Regions from separate parts of the Homo sapiens genome. Here all the other regions are reported to be linked to region 1. The links are microRNA targets in miRTarBase. Many come from high-throughput screens and were not tested one by one. Region 1 holds a microRNA gene; each other region holds the end of a gene's coding sequence.
The links. The annotated mature microRNA hsa-miR-711 reads GGGACCCAGGGAGAGACGUAAG and lies in region 1 at 3,500-3,521, opposite strand. An mRNA with a match to its seed (bases 2 to 7 or 8) in the 3' UTR can be bound and repressed. Matches are read on the target gene's strand: a 7mer-m8 pairs with bases 2 to 8, a 7mer-A1 pairs with bases 2 to 7 and ends in A, and an 8mer does both.

Region 2: miRTarBase lists QSOX1 as a target of hsa-miR-711. Seed matches in the 3' UTR shown: 7mer-A1 at 787-793 and 7mer-A1 at 3,356-3,362.
Region 3: miRTarBase lists DNM2 as a target of hsa-miR-711. Seed matches in the 3' UTR shown: 7mer-A1 at 4,350-4,356 and 7mer-m8 at 4,005-4,011.
Region 4: miRTarBase lists NCAN as a target of hsa-miR-711. Seed matches in the 3' UTR shown: 7mer-m8 at 3,937-3,943 and 7mer-m8 at 2,648-2,654.
Region 5: the mRNA of SYT1 is a reported target of hsa-miR-711. Seed matches in the 3' UTR shown: 7mer-m8 at 4,495-4,501.

Annotation. Positions count from the first base shown.
Region 1 is chr3:48,575,415-48,580,414 of GRCh38, forward strand. It overlaps MIR711 (microRNA 711), which reads right to left and starts at 3,563; the gene lies at 3,488-3,563. It overlaps COL7A1 (collagen type VII alpha 1 chain), which reads right to left. Exons shown (of 119, transcript NM_000094.4): 56 at 4,886-4,930; 57 at 4,617-4,643; 58 at 4,371-4,400; 59 at 4,174-4,254; 60 at 4,066-4,101; 61 at 3,955-3,990; 62 at 3,783-3,863; 63 at 3,505-3,540; 64 at 3,039-3,101; 65 at 2,907-2,951; 66 at 1,578-1,613; 67 at 1,470-1,505; 68 at 1,262-1,357; 69 at 1,108-1,143; 5 more.
Region 2 is chr1:180,196,448-180,201,573 of GRCh38, forward strand. QSOX1 (quiescin sulfhydryl oxidase 1) reads left to right here. Exons shown (of 12, transcript NM_002826.5): 12 at 1-5,126. The coding sequence ends at 590. Among named protein-coding and RNA genes, the nearest start is that of LHX4, 31 kb to the right of the region's middle.
Region 3 is chr19:10,830,583-10,835,697 of GRCh38, reverse strand. DNM2 (dynamin 2) reads right to left here. Exons shown (of 21, transcript NM_001005361.3): 21 at 3,795-4,720. The coding sequence ends at 4,651. It overlaps TMED1 (transmembrane p24 trafficking protein 1), which reads left to right. Exons shown (of 4, transcript NM_006858.4): 2 at 345-442; 3 at 581-764; 4 at 2,485-3,631. The coding sequence ends at 2,703. Among named protein-coding and RNA genes, the nearest start is that of TMED1, 3.1 kb to the left of the region's middle. RefSeq lists an enhancer at 351-988.
Region 4 is chr19:19,249,650-19,254,775 of GRCh38, reverse strand. NCAN (neurocan) reads right to left here. Exons shown (of 15, transcript NM_004386.3): 15 at 2,543-5,010. The coding sequence ends at 4,865. It overlaps HAPLN4 (hyaluronan and proteoglycan link protein 4), which reads left to right. Exons shown (of 5, transcript NM_023002.3): 5 at 1-20. Among named protein-coding and RNA genes, the nearest start is that of HAPLN4, 11 kb to the left of the region's middle.
Region 5 is chr12:79,448,573-79,453,698 of GRCh38, reverse strand. It overlaps SYT1 (synaptotagmin 1), which reads right to left. Exons shown (of 11, transcript NM_005639.3): 11 at 1,691-4,781. The coding sequence ends at 4,575. Among named protein-coding and RNA genes, the nearest start is that of MIR1252, 32 kb to the right of the region's middle.

The DNA.
Region 1 (5,000 bases):
TCCCCGGCAAGGCCGGAAGGCCCGGGGGGGCCCCTCTCCCCAAGGGCCAGACCAGGTGGCCCCTGAGGGCCAGGGTCTCCACGGTCGCCCTTCAGCCCGCGTTCTCCAGGAAAGCCGATGGGGCCCTGCAGGAGTGGAAGAGAGAATGCTGGTGGCTGTACAGCTACACCCCACTCCACGGGGCACAACCCACTGAGCCACTTCTGCTCACCTCCTTGCCTGGGGGGCCCTGTTCGCCTGAGTCCCCCTTGGGGCCTCGACGCCGTTCGGGCACAGGCAGGAAGCTACCAGAGCTCTCATCCCAGGTCTCCACGATCTCCCGCAGGGCAGATGCCTGAGGGACAGCAAGAGGTCAGAGGAGCGGGGTGCGTCGCCGCAGCCCCTATGCCTGTGGGCACCACTAGCCCCAAGGGCCCCCACTTGTCCCTACCCCCAGCCCCTAAACAACCCACCTTGATGCCAGCAGTTTCCAGCAACCGATCCACATTCTGGGGACAAAGTCTGGGTGAAGGGCTGCCCATGACAGAGAAGCTCCTGCCTTCTGCCCCGCACGGCCTCAGGAAAGCACCTTCACACCCTTTTCCCTAGGCCTCTTGCCCAGAGCACCCTTTAGCACTTGGTTGAGGCATGGCTGGAGACTCCTGGGAGCCCCTTTCTGGTGTGTCCCCACTGCCCAAGTTCCCTTGAGTGTGGGCTACAAGAACCCCAATGGGGCAGGGCACTGAACACACAGCACAGAACCTATGGAGCCTCATGGCAAGGGGAAGGGGATGGCAAGGTGGCCCCAATGGGCATGCAAAACAGAGTCAAGGGGACATCCCAAGCCTGGCTCACCGGCACACTTCCAGGCTCTCCTCGCAGGCCACGCTCTCCAGGGAGGCCCTGGAGAGATGAAGACAAACTGCTAGGAACCAGCCTATGGGTGTGCATGTGCACATGTGGGTGCTGTGGCTACCTGGGCATGTGGAAAAGGTGGGGGCCTCACCTGCTCCCCTTTGGATCCAGTCTCCCCACGGTCACCCTGAAAACAAGAATGACCAGGTGGGGAAATGGCCCCCAGCCTGGTCAGCCCCCTCACCACGCCCCCTACCCAACATCCGCACTCACCTTGGGGCCCGTGCCTCCTGGGACACCAGGAAAACCCTGAGATACGGCAGAACACAAAGGGGTCACAAAGGCCCATGGCTTCCCAGGAGGGTTGCCCATTGAAACATCATGGCTTCTAATGCTCTGAAGTCCCAGAATGACCCAGGACACTCACCTGGCCAGGAGGGCCCACTGGCCCTGGGAGGCCTGGAGGCCCCTGGGGTCCAAGGATACCAGGAGCTCCACGCTCACCCTTGGGGCCATCACGACCCTGTGAAGGATGCAGCCAGCATCAGCACCCTGAGACCTCAGAAAAGAGTGGAGTCATATTCCCCCAGGGTCAGGGTCAGGGGTCAGAGGTTGCAGAAAACTCCAATACTCACTTCTCTCCCAGAGGCGCCTGAATCTCCTTTCTCTCCCTAAGGAAGACAAGGATGCTTCAGGCATGGCTCCAAGCAGAGACCAGAGAGACCCCAGGTGGGGGACTTTACCTTCCTCCCGTCTTCTCCAGGGTCCCCAGGTTCTCCCTGTGGGCAGAGGACTCACATCAGCCCAAACATTCACTGGTGTCTGGCTGCAAGACACTACCTTGCTAGATTTCAGATGACTGTGACTGTATTTCTGTGCCTGTAGCTCCATGGTTGTGTGTGTCTTGGAGCATGGCCTGTGGCCGTCTGAGTGAGCTGCTACATGTCTAAGGGTGTGCCTGCATAGGCCTGCTCACCCCAACAGGCAACTGCACACATGTCCTTTGACTCTGGCTCTCTAGAGGTAGCTCCACATTTATGCATCTCTGGGTTGGTGATCGTCCACATGTCCTGGGTGTGTGCATATCCATGTGTGTCTTAGTACATGTACCCATGGGTCTGTGTGTCCTGGTCTGTTTGCACATCTTGGCCCATGTCTGCATATGGGCATGGGCTTATACATGTCTCCAAAGAGCATGGGCTTATACATGCCTTGAGAGCCATGTGTCTTGGCATCTGTCTGCAACTCTTGTGTGTAGCTCAATGTGTATGACCATAAGCGTGTGGGTGACCATATAAAGTCATGGGCCAGCATGTCCTAGCACATGTCACAGGTCAGAGCCATCCATGTGTGTCTCACCATGTCTCAACACAGGTCCACATGCGGTCTTGGGTCCATGTCTTAGCACATGAGTCTGGGTGGAAGTGTCTGGGTATCAACATGTCTCTAAGTGCCCCAAATGTGGCTACACACCAGTGTGTTTGTGCCTGTCGACCTGTCTGTGGCTCTTCACCTGTGCCTATGGCTGTGGGTTATCTGGGCATGTGTCAGCCCATCCTGGCATAAATTGGCCCATTCACCTAACTCCCTATGTGTCTGTGAGGCTGCCTGTGTGTGCATATAGAACTATGTTTCCAGGCCTGGCGCAATGGCTCACGCCTGTAATCCCAGCACTTTAGGAGGCCGAGGCGGGCGGATCACCTGAGGTCAGTTTGTGATCAGCCTGACTAACATGGAGAAACCCCATCTCTACTAAAAATACAAAATTAGCCAGGCATGGTGGCGCATGCCTGTAATCCCAGTTACTCGGGAGGTTGAGGCAGGAGAATCACTTGAACCCGAGAGTCGAAGGTTGCAGTGAGCTGAGATTGTGCCACTGCACTCCAACCTGGGCAACAAGAGCGAAACTCCATCTCAAAAAAAAAAAAACTATGTTTCTGGATGCATCTGTATGTCTGGGCCAGGATGCATGTGTCTACACGTGTGCCTCATGTGTTGCTACAGATCTTGGCTGTGTAGGTGTGCTGGCGTTTCTTGGCAGGTTTCGCCGCAGCTGCCCTGGACACACTCACGTTTTTTCCATTCAGGCCAGGTTTGCCATCCTCGCCTGGCTTTCCCTGTGGGAACAGATCACTGGTTGGATGTCGGGGATCGGGTGAGGGTAGTAAGGGGGAAAAGGGGGTAACATGAAAGTCTGGTCTCACCGGTAATCCAGGGGGACCAGAGGGGCCAGGGAGGCCCTGTTCTCCACGGAGGCCTGGAAGCCCCTGGAAAAAGTCTTTGTTAAGATTTATAGGGCCTCTGAGATATCCCTTGGGGCACACCCCATGGACTAAGAGGACCCCAAAAAGATCTCCCTCCAGGGTAGAGACCCCCAGGACTGAGAGGTCCCATTGAGATCCCTCAGGCACAGACCCCATGGATGGGGGCCCCTGCTGAGACTCCCAAGGGAAGAACCCCCAGGACTTGGAGGGCCTATGAAGACCCCCAAGGCAAAGAAGGTCAGAAAGGGGGATTCTACTAAAACCTGTGTGCCAGGGACTGAGACCCTCCCAAAGGCAAGGCTGAACCGACCCCCCACCAACTCTCTCGGATGCTGTGACTATGATGATCTGGTTGGAGCTTACGCAGCCCCGAGCCCCCTCTGTCCCAGCATCTCCCCTCACTTACGTCTCTCCCTGGGTCCCCAGCTTTGCCTGCAGCACCCTGAGGAGAGACTCAAAGTCAGTTCATCATGGTCATGGGGTCAGGGGCTCTAGTCCCTGTGAGCCTAAGGCCTGCATGGCAAGAACATGCCCCACCCAGGCAGGGCTCTGGGAGAAGACACAGACAACAGGTCTCGCCCCAGAGCTCGTCAAGGCCAAGACCAACCAATGAGGCTGGGGTCTAGGGTCCTCATGTGAAGGGGTAGGGGAAGGGGACAACCAGGCAGGACTACCAAGACTCACATTCGGCCCAGAGGGCCCAGCGGCTCCTGGTTTCCCATCCAGTCCGCTCCGGCCATCCAGCCCAGGGGGACCCCGGTCACCCTGTGGAAAATAGAGTGGTAAGAGGCCACCAAGGCTGAGGTGGATCTGATAACCCAGGCTCATGTCCTGAGAAACCCCCACACCCTCTCACCTTTTCTCCTGCTGGGCCTCGGACACCTGGGTCCCCCTGGAGGGAACAGGGTCAGATAAGAGGTGAGGGTAAGATGGGGACTTGGCAGACGGGGCAAAGTGCATCACTCACCTGTGGGCCTGGGGGTCCCCGAAACCCTTCAATGCCCTGAGGATAGGGGAGGAAGAAATCAGAGCAGGCCCTCCCATGCCTGCACCCCCGAGGACCAATCACACTCACCCTTTCCCCAGGGGCTCCAGGGAGGCCAGGATCACCCTTGGGCCCTCGAGGACCCTCTTGTCCGCGGTCCCCAGGCTCTCCCTGTGGCAGAGATAAGCTTGCTGAGGAACAGCCTTGAAGCCAAGCCATGCCCAAGGTAGAACCTGCTGGGAGGGGCACTGGGGTCTTTCTTACCCTCCACCCACAGACCCTAATACCTTCTCTCTGGCTCCAGGTCCTGTGTCTACCTGTGGGGGGAATGACCAGTGAGAAGAATGGCTCAACAAGGGGAAGAGGAGTTGGCGAGGGGATACAGGGTCTGTGAGGGGCTCCAGGGATCCGCGGAGGTTTCAGAGGGACAGTGGGGGAAGTGGGAGTTAGTGGAAGGAATGAGGGGACATGATGTGGAGCCAAAGGGGCAAGTGAGAACAATGACAGAGGACCAGACCCAGCGCAGCCCTTACCAGCCGTCCCGGGGGTCCTGGGGGACCCTGGGAAAGGAAATGATTATAGTCAATAGGAGCCCTCAGGTCCCAGGCCATGGCTCTGGTTTGCCCCAGGCTCAACTCTGCCCCCAAGTTCCCCGAAGCACCCCAATGCCAGCCCCCAGCAGGCATGGGTGGCCATCCATGCTTCCCACCTGGACCTCCAGACCCCTTGTGTGAAGGCACACTGGCAGCAGCGCCAGGGGACCCTCCATCCCTTCTGAGCCCAGGACACCAGCCCTACTCACCGGCTCCCCACGGTCACCCTTGGGTCCAGATGATCCAGGGCTGCCCTGCAGAAAGGCAGGGGTCAGGGCCACTCAAGGTAGGCAGCAGTTTGGGAGAGCTTTGGAAGCACCATGA
Region 2 (5,126 bases), not on the chromosome of region 1:
GGAGGGATGTGCAGAATGTGGCAGCCGCCCCAGAGCTGGCGATGGGAGCCCTGGAGCTGGAAAGCCGGAATTCAACTCTGGACCCTGGGAAGCCTGAGATGATGAAGTCCCCCACAAACACCACCCCACATGTGCCGGCTGAGGGACCTGAGGCAAGTCGACCCCCGAAGCTGCACCCTGGCCTCAGAGCTGCACCAGGCCAGGAGCCTCCTGAGCACATGGCAGAGCTTCAGAGGAATGAGCAGGAGCAGCCGCTTGGGCAGTGGCACTTGAGCAAGCGAGACACAGGGGCTGCATTGCTGGCTGAGTCCAGGGCTGAGAAGAACCGCCTCTGGGGCCCTTTGGAGGTCAGGCGCGTGGGCCGCAGCTCCAAGCAGCTGGTCGACATCCCTGAGGGCCAGCTGGAGGCCCGAGCTGGACGGGGCCGAGGCCAGTGGCTGCAGGTGCTGGGAGGGGGCTTCTCTTACCTGGACATCAGCCTCTGTGTGGGGCTCTATTCCCTGTCCTTCATGGGCCTGCTGGCCATGTACACCTACTTCCAGGCCAAGATAAGGGCCCTGAAGGGCCATGCTGGCCACCCTGCAGCCTGAACCACCTGGGGAGGAGGCGGGAGAGGGAGCTGCCATCTCTAGGCACCTCAAGCCCCCTGACCCCATTCCCTCCCCTCCCACCCCTTGCTCCTTGTCTGGCCTAGAAGTGTGGGAAATTCAGGAAAACGAGTTGCTCCAGTGAAGCTTCTTGGGGTTGCTAGGACAGAGAGCTCCTTTGACACAAAAGACAGGAGCAGGGTCCAGGTTCCCCTGCTGTGCAGGGAGGGCAGCCCCGGGCAGTGGGCATAGGGCAGCTCAGTCCCTGGCCTCTTAGCACCACATTCCTGTTTTTCAGCTTATTTGAAGTCCTGCCTCATTCTCACTGGAGCCTCAGTCTCTCCTGCTTGGTCTTGGCCCTCAACTGGGGCAAGTGAAGCCAGAGGAGGGTCCCCCAGCTGGGTGGGCTGGAATGGAACTCCTCACTAGCTGCTGGGGCTCCGCCCACCCTGCTCCCTTCCGGACAATGAAGAAGCCTTTGCACCCTGGGAGGAAGGACCACCCCGGGCCCTCTATGCCTGGCCAGCCTCCAGCTCCTCAGACCTCCTGGGTGGGGTTTGGCTTCAGGGTGGGGTTTGGAAGCTTCTGGAAGTCGTGCTGGTCTCCCAGGTGAGGCAAGCCATGGTTGCTGGGCTGTAGGGTGAGTGGCTTGCTTGGTGGGACCTGACGAGTTGGTGGCATGGGAAGGATGTGGGTCTCTAGTGCCTTGCCCTGGCTTAGCTGCAGGAGAAGATGGCTGCTTTCACTTCCCCCCATTGAGCTCTGCTCCCTCTGAGCCTGGTCTTTTGTCCTTTTTTATTTTGGTCTCCAAGATGAATGCTCATCTTTGGAGGGTGCCAGGTAGAAGCTAGGGAGGGGAGTGTCTTCTCTCTCCAGGTTTCACCTTCCAGTGTGCAGAAGTTAGAAGGGTCTGGCGGGGGCAGTGCCTTACACATGCTTGATTCCCACGCTACCCCCTGCCTTGGGAGGTGTGTGGAATAAATTATTTTTGTTAAGGCAAGCATTGGTGTGTTCTTTAACTTGCTACTTGGAGACCTAGTGTCCAGTCTGGACAGAATGCACAGAGACCAGCCTCACCTGGAATGCAGCCAGACTCGATGTCCCTCAGCACACACAGCTCCTGGCCACAGACTGCCCATAGAACTGTCTGCACCCAAACCCCATGGCCTTTTCATGCACGGAGACAGGCCTCTGGATGTGCAGCCTTGCCACCCCCTGCCCCAATCCTCCCTGAGAGCTCCTGCCTCAGTGCCCTGGGCTGGTGAGGGAGAAGCCTGTCTGCACCTGCCTAATTCCAGCTCCTCCAGGAAGCAAGGGCTTGTTTGTCAGAGCTGCAGGGTTGGCCACTCGGTGGGGAGGAGTCAGCCAGGATTAGAGAGCCTGCCCCTAATCCGGCCTGCTGGGTTTTACAAGGATCAGAGCTGCTGATAATGAACCTCATTAAGGGGGAGCAGGAGCCTCAATCCGATTTGGTTTTCTCTTTGACATCTTCACTCTGCTCAGATGGCCTGGGTGCTATGTGGAGCAGGTGGGATGCCAAGGCCACTCCTGCTATGGGGCAGCTGGGGCTGGGGAGGGATGGCAGTCTCCCTGCATGTTTCCCTCGACCTCTTTAGCTGCAGCGCCTTGCTGGGCTCCTGGGTTGGACTCCCTCTCTGTGCCCCTGCTCCAGGCACCCATTGGCTCCATCCTCCTGGTTGTGCTCTGCACCCCCTGCTCCCTTGGGCTGGCCCTGGCTGGGGGCCTGAGAGACAGACAGGAACCCACAATCAGGAGGCAACCCTGGCCTGCAAGAGGAAGACAGAGGCTCCCAGGGCCGGTGCCCTGTGTGCCCACTGCACCAAGGCCGCTGAATAAGCCTGCCCTTCACCCCCTAAGGGCTCCTTGCCCAATGCCAAGTGCTGGGGATTTCTGTCAGCAAGCCCTGTGGCTCCAGTGACGGTATTTCTAAAGCCAAACTTAGTTACCTAGAATTAGCGCCATGTTGGAAACACTGTCGCAGCAGCCCGGGCTGCACAGTGTGTAGCCCAGCCTCCAGGTCCACGGAGTGGTGTGGACCTCCCACCTCACAGCTGCCTCTGGCAGCCAAGCCTCTTTTCGCCCGGCCCCAGCCCCTCTGGTTGATAAACGGGTGGGCCTCCTCAGCAGCGTGGCTGCCTTTCACCTTGATTTCCCCAGGGCTCTCGGCAACATCGATAAACCAGCCTCGCCCACCAGCTGGGCCCTCCCCCACCCAGTCTGCCAGGCTGGGAGCTGGAGCTTGCTGAGTCTTGAATGCCCTTCTAGATGGCTTCTCTAGAGGCTCTCCTGGCAAGAGAGGGTCCCAAGGGGAGCCCTGCAAAGCAAAGGCTCCTTGTCTGGGGCGGGATAGAGAATCTCGCCTCTGTCTGGTGTGTTACCTACTGGGGGCACAGGAACAATTTCCTCAAGGAGACAGTGGCATGGAGCTTTGAAAGACGAGTAGGTGTTAGCAAGGAAATAAGGAGGAACGGGGGTTACGGGCAGAGGAGAAAGCACATGCCAAGTCAGCAAAGAAAAGTAGAATTCGAAAACTTTTTAAAAATATTACTAAGGATTTTCACAATGCTGCACTGGGCTAGAAACTGAAGCTAAAACAGATACGTGGTCCCTGCTGCTATGGGGCTTCCGTTCTAGAGGCAAGGACAGGTTGTGATGAGGGTTCTGAAGGATAGAGACCAAGCAGGGAGGGTGTTGAGGAGGCTTCTGCGAGACCTGAAGGATGGGAAGCCAGGAAGTGGGAGGGGTGGGGGTCCAGGCTGGAGGGGCCCAATGTAGGTGTAGAGGGACTACAGCCCTGAGGGGCTGCTCCATGCGGCATTCTTGGAGGTCCAAGAGGGGCAGCGCCACCTTGGGCCAGGCTCCTCTCCAGCAGCCTTGGTATGGGGTGGGGGTGGGAAGACCCCTGATGCAGCCTGTCCTCTGGGTGTGGGGGTGGAGGAGAGGGCTCCAGGGGACCCAGCCAGCCTTGACCCTGGAGGAAAGTCAGGTGGGCTCAGAGAGAGCCCTCAAATCTGGGCCCTGGGTCAGGGTGGGGTCAAGTCCAGCCTTGAAGAGAATGGACTCTGGAATCTGACGTCTGGGTTTGAATCCAGCTTCCAACACTCACTGGCTGTGTGACTTTGGGCAAGATAACTTATCCCCTTGTCCCCATGTGTCATTGGAGATAAACTACCCACCTACCAGATTGTTGTACCATGCTGGGCAAACACTAAGTGCTTAATAATGGTAGCCCACTGCTCATGTCGTGTCGTCTCCTGTCTTGATACCTGAAAACTCAAGGGGCCCTGTTGTGCTTGGAGGGGGGTGCCGTTCCCACAGGATATTCTGTGAAGGGTGTCCCTGGAGCTGGGCCTCCAGGTGGCAAGCCCCAAGCCACCCCGGCAGGTGCCACTGGCCAGAGTTGAACTGAGGTGTTGAGTGGAAAGTGCCTCCCCACCCCCATCTGCCACAGTAGTATGGATTTCCTTCATGAGATGGGGCTCCTAAAATGCCTGAAATGTGTATGCTGTTGGAGAATTGATGTGTATGATTTATTGAACTTTGCACTCATTTAAATCTCATTTAATCCTCCAACAACGCAAGATGAAGAAGCTGAGGCTTAAAGAGATTAAGAAACATCCTATCCCCTTTACTCCCACCAAAATAAATACATTTGCCCTATTCTCCCAAATGGTGAGAGGTAGATCCAGGACTTGACCCCAGATCCCACCCACTCAACCCTGGAGCTGCAGTCTCTACCCCTTCTAACACATGTGATTCTGTTTCATGTCCTGTTCCATCGGTAGAGTTACACACTTTCCTGAGACTTTATATGGTGGTGCTGCTGGGTGCCAGCCCTTCTTCCCTCCAACAGTGGCAGTAACCACTGTTGTGTGTTGGTGTCAAGGAGTGGGGACACCCTGAAGGAATCCGCCTTTTCTAGAGCTCTCGCTCCATTCCCTACATCGAGGCTGAAGTGCCCTGTCTCGGGTCCTTGTTTTTAGGCCTCGTTTGAAGGAGGGGAAGAAACCAGGTTCGTTGGGCGTGACCTTGGCTCAGCTCGTCTGTGAAATTGGGGCCGCAGACTTAGTTTGCGGGTCCCTGCTAAATTCCTCTCCCTCTTCCTGGGATTCCCATCCATGTATTGCCAGCTACATGTAGAGTGGAGAGGAGAGGTTTTTCCTGCAGGGCCTTCCAGAGAAAGGATTCTTGGCCAGAGGAAATCACAGCCTATAAGATCAATATCCTGATAGAATCCCGGGCCAGGTGTGAGAGGGGAGAGCTCACTCACACCAGCCTGACAGTCTTGGGGCAGAGCGCCCCATAGGCCTCTGCAGCCCCATCACTGCCTCATTCTCCCTCAGGTGCCAAGGAAGCTCCAGGGTGGGCCCAGTATCCTTCCACAGCATCCCTCCTCTTCCCCTTCAACACCCCTTTCACCCCTCCCTCCACCACCTCTGAAAGGTGCTCCTTGGGCAGGGCGATAGGATTCCCACCCCTAGCTTTAAGAACTAAACCAAACTTCAAGAGGAGCAATTT
Region 3 (5,115 bases), not on the chromosome of region 1:
GCGTTGCCCACACAGGCCTTTCTCGGGGGTTAGACTAAGGAAAAAGGCTGGGCCTATCCTCTTTCGGAGGCGGAGCCAACCAGGGGCGTGGTCAGGTAAACGTCCATTAAGTACTTTTGGTAGGTGCGTGGTCAGCTGAAAGTATGGACCCCAAGCTGTCATATCAATGAGGGTGGAGGCAAGGGGCGCAGCCACTGGGACAGGTTGGGGCGGGTGTGGGTGTGCCGCCGTTCAGGTAAGCCCTTGGTGGTCTGTATTGATCAGTGTTGGTTCAGCCGTAGCCCTCTTCGGCAGGCGCCCTTGGCCTACCGCTAGCCCTCCACCCGCTCTTACCTGCCCCCCAGGTGATCGGAGGTGCTGGACTGGACGTGGACTTCACGCTGGAGAGCCCTCAGGGCGTGCTGTTGGTCAGCGAGTCCCGCAAGGCTGATGGGGTACACACGTGAGTTCAGTCTTGATGCCTGCCTGGGTTCAGTTACAGCCCTGCCCTTCCCAGGCGGCCTCAGGTTACCGCCCTGACTGCCCCGCTGAGTCGGCTGGCTGGCCACCCTGGGTCATGTCTGTGTGTCTGTCTGCCCAGGGTGGAGCCAACGGAGGCCGGGGACTACAAGCTGTGCTTTGACAACTCCTTCAGCACCATCTCCGAGAAGCTGGTGTTCTTTGAACTGATCTTTGACAGCCTCCAGGATGACGAGGAGGTCGAAGGATGGGCAGAGGCTGTGGAGCCCGAGGAGATGCTGGATGTTAAAATGGAGGACATCAAGGTGTGTCCAGGCTGCGCTGGGGCCACTCCTTCCAGATCTCTAGGATTCACCTGGGGTGCCCCCCTTGGGCTGACCCAGCCTCCCCTCCGTAGTTGTGCCCTCCAACTGAATTATAGTAAGAGTAGCAGCTCTTAAAATAAGTAGTTCATTTCAGGCCGGGCACGGTGGCTCACGCCTGTAATCCCAGCACTTTGGGAGGCTGAGGCGGGTGGATCACCTGAGGTCAGGAGTTTTGAGACCAGCCTGGCCAACATGGTGAAACCCCGTCTCTACTAAAAATACAAAAATTAGCCGGGTGTGGTGGCGGGCGTCTGTAATCCCAGCTACTCAGGAGGCTGAGGCCAGAGAATGACTTGAACCCAGGAGGTGGAAGTTGAACCTGGGAGGCAGAGGTTGCAGTGAGCCGAGATCGCACCATTGCACTCCAGCCTGGGCAATAAGAGCAAAACTCCGTCTCAAAAAAAAAAAAAAAAAAAAAAGTAGTTCATTTCTAGGTATAAACCCTGGTGTAAAGGTTTAAGGAACTCATATCATAAATAACTCATACCGTAAATCTCCAAACCACCTTGTGAAGCAGACCCTGTGCTCAAGTCATCCCCATTTTACAGGTGGAGAAAGTGAGATACAAGATGGCTGAGCAACTCACGGCCACACAGACCAACTAGCAGAGTTGGTATTGAACCCATGCTGGTTTCAGCAACTATGCTCTTAACCACAAGCAAATATGTTCTGTACATTTATTAGTATTTTAATTAACTACTTATTTATTTATTTTCTAACAGATCTCTCTTGGTCACCCAGGCTGGATTGCAGTGGCACGATCTCAGCTCACTGCAACCTCTGCCTCCCAGGTTCAGCCAATTCTCCTGCCTCAGCCTCCTGAATAGCTGTGCCACCACGCCTGACTGACTAATTTTTGTATTTTTAGTAGAGACAGGGTTTCACCATGTTGGCCAGGCTGGTCTCGAACTCCTGACCTCAGGGGATCTGTCTGCCTTGGCTTCCCAAAGCTCTGGGATTACAGGTGTGAGCTACGGCGAGGCAAGGTCTTGCTGTGTCACTCAGGCTGGAGTGCAGTGGTGTGATCATAGCCCATTGCAGCCTCAAACTCCTGGGCTCAAGCAATCCTGCCACCTCAGTGGGACTACGGGTGTGCACCACCATGCCTAATTTTTTGTTTTCTGTAGAGACGAGGTTTCACCATGTTGGCTAGGGTGGTCTTGAACTCCTGGGTTTAAGTGATCCTCCTGTGTTTGGATTACAGGTGTAATCTTGCTTCAGCCTCCTGAGTAGCTGGGATTGCAGTTGCACATCACCACCCCTGGCTAATTTTTTGTAGAGATGGGGTTTTGCCATGTAGCCCAGGCTGGTCTCAAACTCCTGGGCTCAAGCGATCCTCCCACCTCAGCCTTCCAAAGTGCTAGGATTATAGGCATGAGCCACCATGCTCATCCTTGTACATTTATTTAGGCATTAAATGTTCACAGCAATTTGGAAGCTTATAGAAGAGGAAACAGGCTCAGATAGGTTAATTAAGTTGCTCATGGTCACAGCCAGTGAGTGGCAGGGTGAGGATTTGAACTTAGCCTGAACAAGTCTGTGTTTGCAGCTGTACCTCCCAGGGTTAATACAGCCTCCCTCCGTATCCCCCGGTTTTTTTGGTCTCTGCTCCCTGATGGGTGGAGGGAGGCCTGACCCTTCCCCTCCCGCTGCCCTGTAGGAGTCCATTGAGACCATGCGGACCCGGCTGGAGCGCAGCATCCAGATGCTCACGCTACTGCGGGCCTTCGAGGCACGTGACCGCAACCTGCAAGAGGGCAACTTGGAGCGGGTCAACTTCTGGTCAGCTGTCAACGTGGCGGTGCTGCTGCTGGTGGCTGTGCTGCAGGTCTGCACGCTCAAGCGCTTCTTCCAGGACAAGCGCCCGGTGCCCACGTAGCCCCTGCCATGGAAGGAAGAACGGGACAAAGGAGGGGCAGCAGGGTGTGTGCATATGAGACTTGGGGGTCCCTCCCCAATTTTAGTTTCCTGCCAAAACGGGAGTGTGCAGTCAGGGCCTGCGGTCTGGCCCCATGAGTCTCCTTCCGTCCTCAGCGGGCAGGGAACACCTCTGGCTTGTAGAAGGGACGGCTCAGTGGCTGCACCGACGGTCCTGGAAATCTCACATGGTGGGCACTGCAGCGTTGGAACGTGAGCCTCGGATTTCCTGGCCCCTCTACTGTAAATGTGCCTTAGCCTAAGCCTCCCATCCTGTGTTAGCGTTGCCTGGTGCGGGGCAGGGCCTAACAAGGAAACCTGGGCCCTCCAAGCCAGGTTGAGGTCTGGTAACAGAATGCCAGGAAGGGGGCCTGGAAGACCACCTGCCCCGGCCCCTCTCCTGCAGGGGCCCCACACAGGCATGAGGGATGGCCCGGCCAAAGTCTAGGCAGAAGCCTCCTATAACAAAGGGTGGTGTGGCCTGGGCATTGGAGTCAATAAATTATGGTCAGAAAATCACAAGAGCCTGCTGATTGGGGCTCAGGGACACCAGCCAGGACAGACCGGCCCCCGAGGGGGCAGCCAGACAGGTGGGAGGGGCCTCCCACGAAGCTCAGAAGAAAGGTCGTGCGGGAGCCGATGGAGGTGGTCGCCTGGCACAAGAGAAAAATCAGAAAGCAAAGTTTAACTGAGCCCCAGTTGGGCCACGAGGCTTGGGCTTCCCCACGAGGTGAGAGAAGCAGGGCCTGAGGGTAGGAAGGGGGTGGAGCGCTGGGGTCCCCGCTTCACCAGGCAGCAGCCAGGCCTGTGCACGTGGGGGTGTGCAGGGGGTCAGAGAATATCTGCTCCCACTCCTCACATGCTAAGGAAAGTAAAAGCTCTCCCCTGTATCGAGTGGCTTCCTCTGAAAGGTGACACCCCCGAAAGCAGAGCCCTCAGGGAGATGGGAGGCACTTATGAGTGCAGGGACTTGGGCATCCTTATGGGAGGCCTGATGGAGGTGGCACCCATGTCCCCAGCCTGAACACTAACACAAGAGGCCCACACAGCAGCCACCAGCAGCGTCTTCCCTTTATTTTAGTTTATTAATAGAATACAGAGTGCAGGCACTTACAGTGGTCAAACTGAGCGAGGAGTGGGTGAGGTCTCCTCAGAGAGAGGCCGCCCTGGGCCCACCCATCAGGGAGGCATGGGCGGGAGCTGAGAGGCCCCCAAGACCCCCCGCCACCACCACCCACATAGCCCAAGCCCAGCCACCCTGGGGGACCCAGGAGGAGGAGGAGGAGAGGAATAGGGCAAGGCCGGCCCGGGCCAACGGCTCCGGGCCTAGCAAAGGCACCTCTGGCAGCCGAGGCTGGGCCAGGCTCAGGCTGTGTGGTTAATATGGCCGGGAAGGACTATGTACACCTCAGGCCTGCCAGCTGGGCACTACCGAGCCCACTGGGCCAGGCTTGCCGCTGGGGAGCTCCTGCTAATGGGAAGTTGATATACCCCTGCACCCCAGCAAGGCCTGGGGATGTAGGCGCCCTTGGTGCCCGCACTTATAGAAGGCCTGCCCTACATGGGCTTTCCCAGCCCAAGAAGACCTTGGTAGAGTCCCCCCCAGGCTGGACCCCTCATTCAGGATGGTGTCAAGGGTTCTGGTCCCCCCTCTGCCACCCTGAGACTCCATCCCCCAAAGTGCAACACCCCAGCGCCCCCTGCCTGGAGCTCCAGGGCCCCTTTGCGCAGTGCGGTGTCCAGCCAGGCACAGGGGCCGGCCCTGGACCGGGGCCAGCGTTAAGGAAGAGGCCAGGGCTGCCCACTGGGAGCCTGGTCCCAGCATAGGGGCGGCGGAGGGCCCCAGACCACTGAAGCTCCTGCGCCGCGGGTGCGTGAGGCCCCCCCGAGAGCACGCCCCCCTCGAGGCCTAGTCGAGCAGGGATGGCTCGGCTGGGCGGATAATGGTGGGCCGGCTGGGCGCAGCAGGGGGTCTTCTGCTGCAAAGAGAATAAAGACAGGTGGGGAGGGGGAGACGGCAGTGAGGCCGGGAGCAAGAGGCAGGCCTGGGTTGAGGACCCAGCCCCCACCCACACACCACCCCAGGGTGTTCCCAGGCTGACCTCCGCAAGCCACCAGGGTGTCGGGCAGGAGTGCCAAACCTAGGCATCAACTCGCCTGCTGTTTGACCCTCAGTGAGCCCCCTGCCCTCCCTGGGCCTCAGCTTCCCCACCGGAGAAGTGGGGAGAATAAAGCCTGGCCCACGGTAGGTTGAGGCAGGCAGGAGCAGGAAGGAGAAGAAGGTAAACAGTGGGAGGAGGTGCCCAGTGTGAGGGTTCCCCAGCTGCCTGGTGGCACACCCCAGTAGGCAGAGGGCAAGCTGGGAGCCCCGGAG
Region 4 (5,126 bases), not on the chromosome of region 1:
ATAAAAATAAGTAAATCTCCTCTTCCTCATTCTTCTGACAGTCTGAAGAGGATCAATGGTTTGGATTGAATGCATCATAATTTTGTAGTCAGGTTCCTAATGGTGGACATTTATATTGTTCTCAATATGTTTCTGCTAGAAGTAAGTATCCACATCATCACTCACAAGTTCAAGTATAACTGGAGGATGATATCAGAAGTTGTTTGTTCAGGCCGGGCACGGCAGCTCACACCTGTAATACCAGCACTTTGGAAGGCTGAGGTGGGCGAATCACGAGGTCAGGAGATCGAGATCATCCTGGCTAACATGGTGAAACCCCGTCTCTACTAAAAATACAAAAAATTAGCTGGGCGTGGTGGCAGGCACCTGTAGTCCCAGCTACTCAGGAGGCTGAGGCAGGAGAATGGCCTAACCTGGGATGCGGAGCTTGCAGTGAGCTGAGATAGCGCCACTGCACTCCAGCCTGGGCGACAGAGCGAGACTCCGTCTCAAAAAAAAAAAAAAAAAAAGAAGCTGTTTGTTCAAAGGGTCAAAACTCCCCATTTACCATTTTTTTTTTTTTTTTTTTTTTTTGAGACAGAGTTTTGCTCCTATTGCCCAGGCTGGAGTGCAATGTCACGGTCTCGGCTCACCTCAACCTCTGCTTCCCGGGTTCGAGCGATTCTTCTGCCTAAGCCTCTAAAGTAGCTGGGATTACAGGCGCCTGCCACTGCGCCCAACTAATTTTTCTGTTTTTAGCAGAGATGGGGTTTTACCATGTTGGCCAGGTTGGTCTCGAACTCCTGACCTCAGGTGATCCACCTGCCTTGGCCTCCTACGGTGCTAGTATTACAGGCATGAGCCACTGTGCCCAGACTAAAACTCGCCGTTTTCATAGTGATTTCCACATTTTCTTAGAGATGGGGCCAATTTATACTCCACAGGTAATAGATATACTCACCTGGCTGGGCATGGTGGCTCACGGCTGTAATCCCAACAGTTTGGGAGGCCGAGGCGGGTGGATCACCTGAGGTCAGGAGTTCGAGACTAGCCTGGCCAACATGGCAAAACCCCATCTCTACCAAAAATACAAAAATTAGCCCAGCATGGTGGCAGGCACCTGTAATCCCAACTACTCGGGAGGTTGAGGCAGGAGAATCACTTGAACTGAGGAGGCGGAGGTTACAGTGAGGTGAGACTGCACCACTGCACTCCAGCCTGGGCAACAGAGCAAGACCCCTTCTCAAAAAAAAAAAAAAGTACTCACCTGTTCCACACATCCTCATTAGCCTCATGTCTTGTCACTTTTTATTTTTGTCAATCTGATAGGTGAAAAATGGTATCTCAATGTGGTTGTTGCTTGCGTTTCTATTTGTGAGGTTGAACATCTCCAACCACCACCACCAACTTTGACCTTAGGTGCAGGCGGTCGAGCAAATCGTAAATCATTCACAGTTCAAGCACATTATCATCTTTGATATATGCAAGGATCTTTTTTTTTTTTTTAGATGGAGATCACTCTATCACCCAGGCTGGAGTGCAATGGTGTGATCTTGGCTCACTGCAACCTCCACATCCTGGGTTCAAGCGATTCTCCTGTTTCAGCCTCCTGAGTAGCTGGGATTACAGGTGCGCATCACCGCACCTGGCTAATTTTTGTATGTTTAGTAGAGACAGGGTTTCACCATGTTAGCCAGGCTGGTCTTGAACTCCTGGCCTCATGTGATCTGCTCACCTTAGCCTCCCAAATTGCTGGGATTACAGGCGTGAACCACCATGCTGGCCATCTTTTGATACATTTGTTTATTCTCTTATATTTTTATGTCCTTCCTTGTGAATCTAGATGTTCTTGCAAAATGTGTATTATTTTATTGAGTCTATATTGTAGTTTTAGAGCTGCTATTTCCTTTTTTGTAAACTTTTTTTTATATCTTTTGCCTGCTTGGCTAATGGATTTGTCTTTTTCCTACTGATTCGAGTGAGCCCTTCTTTTTTTTTTTTTTTTTTTTTTTCTGAGACGGAGTCTCTCTCTGTTGCCAGGCTAGAGTGCAGTGGCACCATCTCAGCTCACTGCAACTTCTGCCTCCTGGGTTCAAGTGATTCTCCTGCCTCAGCTTCCTGAGTAGCTGGGGCTACAGGCGCATGCCACCATGCCCAGCTGATTTTTGTAGTTTTAATAGAGACAGGGTTTCACCATGTTGGCCAAGATGGTCTCGATCTCTTGACCCTGTGATCCGCCTGGCTCGGCCTCCCAAGGTGCTGGGATTACAGGCATGAGCCACTGCGCCCGCTCCCTTCTGCAAGAAGACTTTTGCTTTCACTCTTTCCTCTGAGTGGAATGCCTTTCCTTTCTTTCTCTCCTCATCTAGTTAATGCGACTTCTTCTTTAGATTCCATTCCCCTCCTCGGGGAAGCCTTCTGTGACTACCCACTAAAGACCAAACCTTCTCTGTTCACCACTATCTCCCCAGCACCCAGTACAGTACATGGATCACAATAGCTGCTCGGGTAAATACTTGCTGAATGAATGAATGAATGAAGGTATCAGGTGGTGACGGGCAGGTTGAACTGTTAAAAAATTTATTAAAATGTCCAAGAAGTACATTAATGTCCACAGTGTCAGATACCACAGACCCACAGAACACTGCAGCTCACAGCAAAACCAGCAGGACCCAAAGCCGTTCACACGCACACACACTCATATGCGTGCCACGCACATGGCACACGCAGACACACACGCACATCCAAAAGGGAAAGATCAAAAGACAAACCGCCCACTTTAGAAAAGACCAGAGCCCCCTCCCACCATGGAGCCGAGGTGGGGGCAGGGCAAACGGCTGAGGGGCTCAAGGGCAGGGAGCATAAACCAAGACCCCCCAAAAAACACTGCATCCCCAGCCCCCCGCAAACAAAGGAAAATTTTTGTGTGACATAGATGACCAAAGATGTGTTATTATTATTATTTTAAACTAAGAAGAGTTATCAAAGTAAGAAGACAAACCTGTATCCCTGGGTTTTCTGAATAATAACCATAATAAGATAGATGTCTACAGGGAGGAAGATTGAAGACAAGGATAAGGGTTCAGTTTACACTTCTTAACCATTTCCTAAATGTGTATGAGGGTGCAATTATATTTCAATCTCCTCTCCAGAGTCCAGAGCAGGATTTGGGTCAGAACCAAGATGGGAGTTGGCTCTGACTTCTGGATTTGGAGTAAGGATTTGGTGATGGAGAGAAAGTGTAAGCAGAGCCAGAGTAAGGATTTGGTCCAGAAAACAGGACCAAATCCTTATTCCAAATCCTTACTCCTGTCGTGGTTGTGACTTCAAGCCAGTACCTTTCCTTTATATCTGAGCCTCAGTTTCACTGTGTGTAAAATGGGAAAGTAACAGTTTCTAAGTCAATGGGCTATTGAGAAGATTCAAGGAGATTGTATGTAAGTCTTTAGCATGGTGTCTACTTCTTAGTTGTCAATGGTCATTATTACTTCCCAGAAGGGATTCAGGCTCAGTTAACACATTTCTTTCTTTACTGAACCCCTAGGTGGACCATTCATTTGCTTATTTTTCTTTCCTGAAGAGGGCCATTCTCCACGGTGCTTTTTTAACCCTGATCCACAGATTTTACCCGGACTGCTGAAAGTGAGTAACAGACATGGAGGAAAAGCTGTGGATCTTTCCTGCCAGAGATGAGGGAACTGGATCCTGGCCCCTGGTGTGGAGAGACCTTTTACAGGTTGCACATTTGGGGGAGGAAGGCAAGGTGAGTTCTTTCCCACTTAAAAAATTAAAATCTACAAGAGAAAAATGTGTGTGTGTGTGTGTTTGTGTGTTTCAGTTTTAACACTGAGCATCTCTCTACAATATGACCGCAGGTAGGTGTCACTACTTCAAGTTTTAAGTGTTTCTAGACCACCAGGCAATGGCCAGGGACAAGGGTGGGGTGGGGCAGGAGTGGGACCCAGGGCAGGGGCACTACCAATGTCTGCTTAAGGACTGGGTATGTGCACTGGGCTAGAAAACTTGGCAGCACCTCCTTGGTCCAGGAAGGAGGTTCTTTGTCTCCCTGAGAGATGGAGGGGGAAGAAATCTGGGCTCATCTAGCCCTAAATATCCTCTCGTCTATTTGTGTGAAAGAGATTCATCACACATGCAGAACCACCAAATCTCAGCGCTGGACTAGACCTGGAAGGGTTAGCAATACACTCTCCCTCCATCACCTACATATTGCTTTGATCATTCTCACTCCTAACTCTGAAGGCATGGAGGGAGGTTGTCCTAAAAACATCCCTAAAATGCAGTACGTGGGATCTCCACACTGTGTGTTTATCCACCAAGACCAAAGACGGAACTTGGGCTGAAGTCCAGGGTAAAGGGAGAGCTGTTGTCAAGTTCAAAAACAGTGTGCTTCTGTGTAGCCTTCTATTCCCAAAGCTAATGACCCTACGTCCAGGCTTCTTCCTGGATTTAGGAATTCAGCCAACATTGACTAAGTCTGAATTTCTGGTGTGAAAAGCAATTCCTTCATGTGAATGCAAACATACACTCATGCACCCTCATCAAGGCCTGCTTCAATCAGCCTGGCAAACAAGAGACCAGACCAATGAGCTTTGCTACTTGTGCTTCCCTCAGCTGGGACACACTCCCAGAGTTCAGCCAGACGAGAATGAACTTTTCAGACACCTGGCTCCACCTGCCAAGAGGATCTTGTGTATGTAAAAAAAGGGAAAAGAGGAGCTTTGTACAAAGGATTATGTGTGTGGGGGATGTGGTTTGGGGTTCAGGGACTTCTGGACTCTCTTGTTTCTCTCTGGGTTCTGTCTCCCCAGGCGAAGGCTCCAGAGGAGGCATGGGAAAGGTGTTGTGCTTTCTTTTTTCTGGTTCTTCAGCAGAAATTCCCTTCGTCCTTCTCCCAGTCCTCCGTTGGGTGTTTCTTGTGTTTTCTGCGCTCCTTGCGGGATTTGTGGTGGTGATGCTGGTGGTGGTGTTGGTGGTGGTGGTGGTGTCGCCGCATCCGATGTGAACGTCTGGCTGCAGGGAAGTGAGGGAGGACAGGGAAGGGACAAAAGGTGGTGAGAGGCAGGTGGCCTGATGCAGCGGGTGTCCTTGGGAGAGAAAGTAGAGGAAAGAGGCCAGACGCGAGGGCT
Region 5 (5,126 bases), not on the chromosome of region 1:
ATTGTTTAATGCTGATTTTTTTTTTAAATTTCTAAACCAGTTGTGCCTTAAGTTTCATTTTATAAACTTAGATTTTGAACCCTTCGCCAGCAGCTTCCTCACAGTGTATAGTTATTAAGTGATCTTTCCACTGGTTGTCTTAGCAGTTTGGGTTTAGTTCCTATTTTTATTTGGCCATGACTGATAGAGCTGAGTGAAGGAAGTATAATACAGCCAACCTCAAAGACTCCATCATGAATACACTTGTCAAGTGAGATAAATTTTGCAGAAGTCTTGCTCACTCCCTTACTTGGATGACTCCTGCCAGTTCCTTTAGTACTTCGCTGTGTTATCCTCTCTAGAAAACTCTTCTTGATATCTCCTCCCCAAAGAATGTGCTGTGGGATGGGATCCCCAGGATACAGATTCTGAGATGAAACTGTACATGAAGGGGTTTTATTGGAGGAAGTGCTCTTAGGAGCAACACCTGCAAAACACTGAAGAAAACCAACAGGGCAGAGAAAGAAGTTGAACTGCAGTGCAGTTGCGAAAGCAGTCTCCACTAACTCCTGGGGCTATGAAACTGAGATGGCGCTTCAGAGATTCCGAAATCAGCAGCCGATTGTGGGCTGCTCCCAGGGAGGGTGCATAAACTTAGGTGAGACAGCTTCCTTCTGTAGAGCGCAGAGGAACACAGCTGTCAGCTGTCAGCAAGCACCACTTCCAGCAGCTGCAGCAAGAGTACCTCTCTGCTGAAGGGGGATCATGGTGATACACCATGGTATCTACTACGATTGATCCAGTAAAAGTCCTCAGGGATAGGCCGGGCACAGTGGTTCACGCCTGTAATCCCAGCACTTTGGGAGGCCGAGATGGGTGGATCACGAGGTCAGGAGATGGAGACCATCCTGGCCAACATGGTGAAACCCTGTCACTACTAAAAATACAAAAATTAGCTAGGCGTGGTGGCGGGCTTCTGTAATCCCAGCTACTCGGGAGGCTGAAGCAGGAGAATCGCTTGAAGCCGGGAAGTGGAGGTTGCCGTGAGCCGAGATCGCACCACTGCACTCCAGCCTGGCAACAGAGCGAGACTCCGCAAAAAAAAAAAAAAAAAAAAAAAAAAAAAAAAAAGTCCTCAGGGACCCAACACCCTTACTTTTAAGCCCACATCACAGTGCATTGGGATAGCGTATTTACATCAGCCTGAAACTGTGGGCTTCAGCGTCCAGTACAGTAGGCACTTGATAAATGTTAAATTTAGTGGAGGAAAAGTATTTACTTGTTTCCCATAGCGATCGTAGTAGGCATAGAATTTAATGTGTCATACTGTCCTCTGAAACTGGGGTTTAAATAGTTTTGTTTTCCGTCCCATTCTGGAGAAGCTGTGTGACTTGGGTTCTGGAGTGAAAACCCTGAAGGACACATGCTGGGCAAAGTGAAAAGCCTCAGAGTACGCCAGATGAACTGATGACACACAGGAATAGAGAAACACATGTTGAGAATGACACTGCCCAGGAACACCACGCGGTCATGGCCAAATGCTCCCGGGTGTTGTTTTCCCTCTAGCTATTCTGTACTCAGATGTGACTCAGATGCTGGCATTCAGTGCAGTTTTGTTTAGCTGCTGCTGCTTCCAGGAGTCCCCCAAAGTCAATAGGCCATTGGCTTACCACCAGAGTCAGGCAAGGAAAAGAGTGGGAACGCAGCAACATCAACAGGAAATAAAACATTTTTATTGAATATCTGTGTAATATGTTAAGTCATTTTTAACAACAATCAGAAAACTACTGTGGAATTCACTACACAAAGTGAAACAAAATTTAAATCACCTCATCAAAAATGAAGGTAAAATACAGCTGAAATAGTTGGCTCGCAGGCCACGAGCCATATGGCAGAGGAAAACACCCCAACATTTCTACAAGATACAGGGAAAACCCACACATAGAAACACTCAAGCAGGCAGTAAATATACACAAAGGCAACTAGGATCTTTCTAGAGCATCAGATTCTAATACTTTACACAGCTTTGTCAGAAGGGTACATGTGGCTTATTTGAGGATGAATCTTGGTCATAAAGCAGGTTCCATCACTGACTTGTGAAAGAGTGAAAGATGGCATAGTACCAACTAATTCTATGGTGACAATCCCATGTCTGGCAGTGTTGCAAGAGAATGCATTAGTGGTATTTTAATGCAAGAAATAATGTCTATTCAGCAGCTTGAACCTGCTTGTTTGAAAGTGTGGTTTCATTGTGAACAACTTAAAGCTGAATACAGTGAAATTAAATGTCATTTGTGGTATTTAAATACTTTTTAAAAGCCAGTCAACTCCCTCTCTTTGGTAGGGTTTGGCCCTTTAAATTGGAAAGAGTCTTGTTTGAATTTTCTGTTCAAACCATTATTTAATTTCACATTCTGACTTGTGTATATTTTCTATTACCTATGTTTTTTAAGAAGTACGGACCATCGGCAGACGGTTATTTTCCTTTTATCCTTTATGTCTATGCCAATTATAAAGCGTTTGCTATGTCTGGCCTAAAAGGCAAAAGAGCTTGCCCCTTCTTTGATAAGGAAACAGTAACGACAGGAATTCCAGTTTTACTGGGAAACAGCCAACCCCATGTTCAAAGCCTACCATCAGCCCTTTTTGAATTCTCTTTAGTTTTTGAAAAGACGTGGTGTGATATCCTGAAGACTGAACATGAGGCCAATGCTTAGTTTTCCTCCATTTTGTTTTGATATTTGTGAAGACAAACTTTCATTTCAGAGCATCACTACTGTCTTGTGGCCTGGAAATTAAAATGGATCACAGAAGTGAATGGGACAAAAGGCTAGATGCAGTGTGGGATAATAGGCTGCCCTTCCACGAAATGGTTGTCTACCATAGTGGGGAAAAATATGGAATATTGCACAGTGCTTGACAAAATGCTGTGTTCCACCCCATTCTATGTATCTTCCTTGTCCTATGCATAGCTTTTCAGTTCTGAATTGGTCCTTTGTAATGAGAACTGTTTGTGCTACACACACCTTGGGCAGTGCAGTAGAAGGGAATGGCAGTATTGTTACAATATCACTACGGAATAAATTGAGTGCTATCCACTGAGGAAACTACGGGTCTAAGCACACACGGCAGTCACAGTGTTACACAGAGCAGTCCTTTAAGACTCTTATGGAATGACTAGTAGCTTCATAATAGTGTCATTTACTACATAATAACATTGAAAACGTTTAAAAACTCCTCCTAAATCAAGCATCTAGTATACATAAGAGGTTGCTTCAGTTTTCTAGAACTTGTTCTTGGTTTGTTTCACCTTTTTTTAAAGGACAAATTAAAACTTAAGTAAAAAGAGCATATAAAAAGATCACTAGCTGTCTGTTTTGGCTTAATTGAAGTGCATTCAGAACTATGGCTAATTGTTGTTGGTTTTTGTTTTTGTTTTTCTTTCATCTTTTGATGGGATTACAATACTGTCTGTTTACCACAAAGTAATTTTGTGTAATAAGCACAGATTGTTGTGTTAAAAATATCCTGCATTCCTTCTAACCTGGTTTTATATAATAAAATATTTTGTTACAAACTCTAATGTGCAAACCTTTTGGAATTATTGTAGGTGTGAAATCTGGAACAGAATTCACAGGATGTACATTTTGTATAAAGGTGATAATGGAGAGCTACTTTTTTCTTTTTAAATAGTCAGGCAATATTTCATAAATGTTGACTTCTCCCCTTAGCTTCTTCTCCCCCATCCCCAAACAAATGTGCACACACACACACACACACACACACACACACACACGGAACACCTTGTTGTTATTCTATATGCAGTAATATGAAATCATTGACTCCTGTTCAGTTGCTTCCTCAAATATAAGAGTGAAGCCATTATTTTAGCTTTGTAAATATGTACAGACAGGTGCTATTCTGTTTTGTGGCTATGCTTCCTTGAGGTCAGCCTGGATGCTGCTGCTCAGATCATGCTATTTTGCCTGTGTAGGAATTCTACAAAATTGGATTCACCCACCAAGTATGTGGTGTAAGTTTATCTTGGTACTCAAATGATTCAATAGAAAGCTCAGGTTTAAGTTGTCCTTTAAGATGTCAGTTTAACTGTACTAGTGCCTTACGAGTTGATATTTTTGCTGGAATGCAGACGATACTATATTTACCGTATAATATATTATCAGCTCTCCTATATCTCAGTCAATTTACATAGTTTAAAATAGAACATCTTATTAAAAACATCTAGATATACACAGATTAGGAAACGCTTACAACATACAAATACACAAACTAGAAATAAATCTTTAGCATACTGGTATATACAACAGTGTGATACAATAAATAATTTCATTCATGCTCTATCTACACATCATATTGCTTAAAAGAAGAGTAGATTTGGAGGGCAGTGGTATGATGAAGGACTTAGGGGCTCTCTACATTTAAATTTGTGCAAATTAAAACAGGATTCCAAGTACCACTGAATTGTGTTAGGAATGCATGGCTGGAAAAATGAAAGGACCCATATTACTGAGGTATTTACAGATACTGGCTAAAGAGCACTATATGGGCAAATGCAGAAAGGCTTCTTCTTTCCTTTACTTCTTGACGGCCAGCATGGCATCAACTTCCTCCTCTACCTGCAGGGTGTGCCACTGGGCAATAGGTCGCCTGGGGTTGGCCAGCATGTCTGACCAGTGTCGCAGCTCCGCGCCGGTGCTGTTGTAGCCCACAAAGACTTTGCCGATGGCATCGTTCTTGCCAATCTTGTCATAGTCCAAAACAGTTACCACCACCTGCACTTTCTGAAAGAAGCCATGAAATGAATATGAATCATCTAGCTCTAGAGATAAGGCCCGACTATAAAGCGTCCTTGAGCGCTAAAGAATTGGAAATAGAAGAATCAATCTCCAAGCACTAGGATGAGGATGAAAATGACTTGAATCTTAATACTCAAACGTTAATTTTTATTATATACTTTGCACTAAGTCTTTTACATGAATGAACTCAGTTACTTCTCATAATAGATCCTATTAATATTGCCATTATACAGGTAAGGATGCTTGAAGCTCTGAGAAGTTATATAACCTGTCTGAGGTTGTTTAAGGAATGAGTTGTTTGGTTTTCAGAGCCTATGCTGTGAACCTCCA